Linked DNA regions of Homo sapiens: region 1 is linked to region 2. The links come from fine-mapping of genetic effects on gene expression. A gene starts in region 2. The other region holds a variant in brackets. All regions are shown on one strand. Distances are between the middles of the regions.

What was found. PIP is the estimated chance that this variant, and not a neighbour inherited with it, causes the effect.
Region 1: its variant is the best candidate, but not a certain one, in a credible set for the expression of ARMC8 in prefrontal cortex (CommonMind, PIP 0.73).

The regions. Positions count from the first base shown.
Region 1 is chr3:138,305,282-138,308,194 of GRCh38, forward strand. NME9 (NME/NM23 family member 9) reads right to left here. Exons shown (of 11, transcript NM_001349018.2): 7 at 1,117-1,199; 8 at 723-815. Among named protein-coding and RNA genes, the nearest start is that of NME9, 23 kb to the right of the region's middle. The variant A/G (reference allele first, on the strand shown) is at 1,273.
Region 2 is chr3:138,185,674-138,188,586 of GRCh38, forward strand. It overlaps ARMC8 (armadillo repeat containing 8), which reads left to right and starts at 1,628. Exons shown (of 22, transcript NM_001363941.2): 1 at 1,628-1,926. The coding sequence starts at 1,882.

The DNA.
Region 1 (2,913 bases), 120 kb after region 2:
ACTCATTTGGGAATAAACGTGAGATTATATAAATTAGGCAGAGACATTTAAAAGACCATATCTATGGAAATCGTGTGATGCTGGATAACCAAGGGCTGAAATATAGTTGGTACTTTTTTTCTTTTCCATGCAATGCCTCACAACCCTTCCTCCCTCTTCAAGTAACAGTACTCTGGTTTTCCTTTGGGGAACAGCCCTTACCCATTTCATTTGGTCCAAGTTTGACTGACAACCATGGGATGCCTATTCCCCAACACACACACACACCCCTGACCTGAGAGGAAGGGTTCTGACCCAAGCTAAGCCAAGAAGACTCCCAAGCAGGTGGGTTATCAGCAGAAGCAAATGGAAGGTAGTTAGATCTGAGTTATCCAATGGCAGTATCTAAAGTGATATGCTCGAGGCTTTGCTTCGAGATCCCTAGCTTCCTTTTGTCTCCAAGCCCTTCTCATTAAACTCTCCCTTCAATTCTGTGAGTTATGGACTTTCCTTCTAATAAATTCCTTAATTCATTTCTTAGAGAGAAAACCTTTTCTTTGCAACCAAAAAACTTTACCTGATACAGCCTATTGTCATTCTGAGAATAAATTCATGACCCACTTGCTGTTCCTATTTTGGTTCTTCATAATTTCTTCTGTCACAAACTGATATCAATCTATAAGCATAATGTTGGAGGAAGAGAAACGACAGTGTGTTGAACTTGTGGAAGTAGATGAGCTGACCTCTCCAGCTTTGTGTTGGTAGAAAAGTCGCACTTCTGCCTCTGTCATGGTTCTCTCTTCATTTGTTAGAATTTCAAACCCAGCTTCCTGAATCTGTAGAATATATATAAATATTCTAAAAGGGTAAATCAAGCCCAAATTCACATTGATTAATTAATTTAGTTGAAAGGTAAAAAATAAAGACAGGCAACATTAAAGGCTGTGGAGACACTGATCCCCACATTATCTGTCCCAATCAGATTTAACATTTTCATTTACTTGAATGGAACTTGAGCTACAACCCCTTAGAATTCATCTTTCTGCACTAAGATATCACTGCCCAGTGCCCCATCCCTGTTTATCCACAAAAGAGGACACAAGGACAGTGGTGCATGGTAAGTGTTGTCTCTCTTACCTTCATGATAATCTCATCAGTCTTTCCATGGGCCACTGCATCTGGTTTAATGATGGCCAAGGTACAGGTCCTCTCTGATGAAACTAAGCCAAAAAATGGTGCTGTCAGATGCTGATGTTTGAGGCTCCTGAGAGGCCATCCACAAAAAACAATGCA[A/G]CCTCTACACAAGGCTCCATTGCACCAAGTGCCAGGCACAGGCTTGGGCTCTCAGAGTTCCCTTCCCTGGCCTCTTAGTTTTGCCCCTGCAAACCTGGACTCTGGTGGATGCACCAGTCTGACTCCAGACCTGAGGCCAGACCTCAACCTCCATCTTGCTGCAAGGAACAGAGACTCAGAGACTGGCTCAATGAACCTGGGCAGGTGGCAGAGGAGGAACATGGGAGAAGGGATTGCTCAAAGACTGCTTGGGACCAGAAATCCAGAAACAACTGAATTGAGTTGGCCTGGGGAGTGGGAAGAAGAGGAGGTATAGGAGAAAGTGAGAGGGGGGCCTGGAGCATGGGCAATACAGGCCTGGCTGCCCTCACCCTCTCATGATTCCCAGCACTCTACCTGCTGTCTGCCACGTGCTCTCCTTTCACTCTACTGGCTCCTGTGCCTCTGATACTTTTTCCCTTTCCTGCCATGTGGCTAAAAATGGCTCCTCCAGGCCCTGAGTCTGCATGATGTTCCATGACTTCTCAGCTCCAGCACATACTACCAGATTGCAGTTTCAGTAGTCTGTCTCCGTTCAAGTTCTCCTGAGAGAAGCCAGATTGCCCCACTCATTGGTTTTAGCCAAGGTACCAGCCCTAGCTCACTGGCCAGTCTGCTGATTGACTGCCCTTGAATAAGCATCCACCAGTCCAATTAGCTATGACAATGAGGGAGGTGCCACAGGATCAGAGTCCACTGCTTAGTCCCACAGGAGCTGTAGGGAGGTCTGTGTCTAGTCCATGAGCCCATCTCCATTGTCCTCCTGCTTATATTATATAAACTTGTCTTGGATGAGTTATCTACACTCTCCACAGAATCATCATTCTCCCATCACCTATTTTGTTTCTCAGCTTTTACATTGGTTGTGTTGAAATGAAACAAGACAATATCTACATTTAACGAGGGCTTCTACTCTGAAAAATCTCAAAAACATGTACTGCAAATGTATAAATCATTTCAAGCAACAAATCTGTTATTTCTTTCTGACATTACTATTTCTAACGTGTTATGAATATTTAGATTTTAAGAGAGTTTTACAATAAATTCCATTATAAATTGATTAGTGAGATCACCTAGAGGTAGAGGAAGAAGAAAAGAGACCAAAGCAGGGGCCTGGGGTGCTCCAGGTTAAAAGGGCAGCACAAGAAAAGAAGCCAATGAAGGAGAAACTGAGGAGAGGCCAGAGACATAGAAGGAAAACAAGAAAAGTTGTGACATCTCAGAAACCGGAAGAGAAGGTTTTGAGAAGGAAGACATTGTGAACATCATCCCATTCTGCAGAAAAATCCCATAAGATATGAACTGGTAACTACCTGTTGGTGCCACCAATGAGCACCATTTCAGGGAGTAGTGAGCGCAGAGGCCAGATTGCTGCAGGTCGGGGCATGAATGGAAAGTGAAGGTGGCCTAGAGTGTGGACAAAGGAAGCTTGGCTGTGAATAAGAGGAAGGCTAAGGAAGGGTAAGGGCGGTATCTTAGATGGTTTTCTACGTGGGAGAGACTTGATTTGGGAGGAAATCATGGAGGAGGGAAGAAAGAGGAGATGATGCAACAGGGGAGCAACAAATGTCTCCTGCAGAATCACAATCACTGATTTTCTCT
Region 2 (2,913 bases):
GTGCTAGGCACTGAGATAGACAACCTAGAAGATAAAACTCCCAGTGCCTGTCTTGAAGTGTATAGTGAGACAAACACGGAAACAATTAACAACAACAAAACCACCCTACAATTAAAGTGAAGTATGAAGGCATGGGGGAAAGGGTATCTAACCCATGCCTGGGGGAGACAATTCCTGGAGGATGTATTGCTTGAGCTAATGGATGGAGTGTGGATCAAATACAGTTATAATGACTCTATATACTATGTATTAGGGTTATGTTCTGCCCCATTGCAGTATGCAGTACATGATGTGATTTTAGGTGGTCCATGGATGGACATTTAAACTTTTTGTAGTTAATGTGTACTAGAATAAAAATAAGGAGCACAACAAACTTGATTTCACAGAGTATTATGGTTTAGGATAAAGCCAAAAATTTTTAATGAGTTGAAATTGGCTTTAAATAAAAATATTGAATGAATAATAATACCTAGGTGCAGATTGGCAAAGATTGTGTAGGTGGTGTACAGATTACCCAAGTTTCAGAAATAGTATTATAGCAGAAGGACTACCTAAAATAAAATTCCTGCCTTCCAGGAATTCAACAGTTTGTTAAGGAACACAGACCCATAAGCAGGGGTGGTAAATGCTACACTAAATTTGGAAACCAAGTACAGGAGGAAGACAGGAAAACAGTGAGGAGCAGAGTGCGGGAGAGGCTACCAGCTACAAGACCAGTTGGAAGGCTATTGCTGTAGTCCAGGGGAGAGGTTACAAGAGCCTGAATTAGGGTGTGGCTATAGAAATGGAAGGAATACAAGTAATGTTAACAGGCCAATTGCAACCATACTGTGAAAACCTTACTGGTTGCAAGCAGTACGAAGGTGAAACTTATCCAACCAAGTCAAGGGCAGTGTTGCACACACACACACACACACACACAAAGTAGTAGGACAGCTGAATTAATCAAGTATAATTGAAAGCATACTTTTATTTAGCTTCGGTTATGAGAGTGTTTTAGTGCGAAATATTTAGATATTTGCCCCCATTTTCCCCACTTAACTCAGAAGCTGGAGAAATGTTAACACATATTGTATAACGCTTTCTATGTTCTAGGTTTTTTCTGAGAGCTTCACGTTTGTTGACTCCTCTATCCTCATTAACCTTTATTTTATAGATGAGGAAACTCAAACAGAAGGTTAGATAACTTGCCCAGGGTAAAGCAGCTGATAAATCAAGTAGCTAGGAAGAAACCCAAGCATTCTGGCTATTCTTAACACTACACCAGAATAAACGGGGCCGGCACACAACGCTAAGGCAAGTCACGTATCTGTATCGGATCGTGAAACAATCACTCTTACGGTTGGCAAAGGTTCTGGGATCGCAATTTCCCCACCTATAAAATGGAGATAACGACGCCGGGAGTTTGGTGCAGAGAGAGAGAATGAATATGAAAGTGAACTTCAAACTATGTATGTGGCTCCACGTACTACTTTTTCCAAATATGAATACTGGAATCCATAAACTGCAATTTATCAGTCCGTAAAACTCGTAGCGTCAGGGCGAGACTCCGCCTCTGGGGCCCCGCCCACCGCGAGCGGCAGGTGGGGCCGGCAGATCTTCTTTGCGCATGCGGAAACCGCTGCCCGCTTCCACCTCTAACCCAGGCTCAGAGTAGCTGCTGTTTCTGAGAGAACGATTCGTAGGACAGCCCCTGACGCCATTCCCTTTTGCCCTTCTTTCTGCGGGCCTTTCCGGTACTTGAGCGGTGTCCAGAGCGTGGCCAGTTCTCGTCTATCTGGCTGCCTTTAGGGAGCGGTGCCTAGCGTTGGCCAATAGTTGGCTGTCGAAAGTGCCGGCCCCCGCGCCGGCGCCTGCAGCAGCCGGGTGGGAAGGCTCAAGATGGCGTGCTTGTTGGAGACCCCAATCCGCATGAGCGTCCTTTCGGTGAGTGACCCGCCGCGGCCGCCCGCCCGCCCTCCAGGAAGCCTCATCCCGGTCTCCACCATTCCCCCAAGCGTGGTGTGCCTCCTGGGCACCACCCCCTGGGGTGGACCCCGGCTCAGTCTCGGGCCAGGGAGTGAGCGAGGGTGGAGAGGCGGGATAGACGGGCAGAGGGGACCGCGGCCGAGCCAAAGACGTTTCCAACTCCGGGAGCTCCCGCCGGTGCGGGTTCCCAGGATGGCGTCTGGCAGGCGGGGTGGCTGGGCTTATAGACAACTGGCTGGGCGGCGCGGCTTGGACTTTGCCAAGCGTTTCACTGAGCCTTCCTTTTAGCGATGCCGCTTCCCGGGGGCCGAACGCTCTGCCTTGTGAAGCGCCGGGCTTGCAGCCGGCCTGAGAACGAGCGCCCACTCAGCTCTCCCGGGCTTTGGCAAGAAGAGGTGCAGGCTCCTTGGCCCCCATTTCCTCAGAGCTGCCAGGCCAAGTCTGTGCGGCTTCTATCGCGTCCCAGCACCTGGGCACCGGCTGAAGCAGTTTGCTTTTTGGCAATGGTGATTCGTATCAGCTGCAACTCTTCCTAGTGTGTGTGGTTTTTTAAGCCCCTTTCCTCCGCTCTGCTCAGAGGTCGCGGCTCTGAGTCAGAGGAACTCTATGTTCCCTGTGCCTGGTATTCCGTTTTTCTTTAAGGGGAGTCAAACATTGAAGGGGGGAAAAGGGGGTGAGATTTATTTCCCCATTGTTGAAAGAAGGGAACGTATTGACATGCCAGGAAGTAAAACCTGTTTTTTTTTTTTTTAAAAAAAGTTTTTTTAAAGAAAAAGACGACTTTCACCTTTCACTATGTTGCTCTTGAACCAGGACCAGGAATGAAAGTTACTGGGAGATAACTTCGAAGGATTTTGCAACAAATTCGAGCTGTCCGACTCTGAGAATGGTCAGTTTACCAATGGTTCATTTGCTATTGTTGGAAACAAGCAGGCAAATACTGAT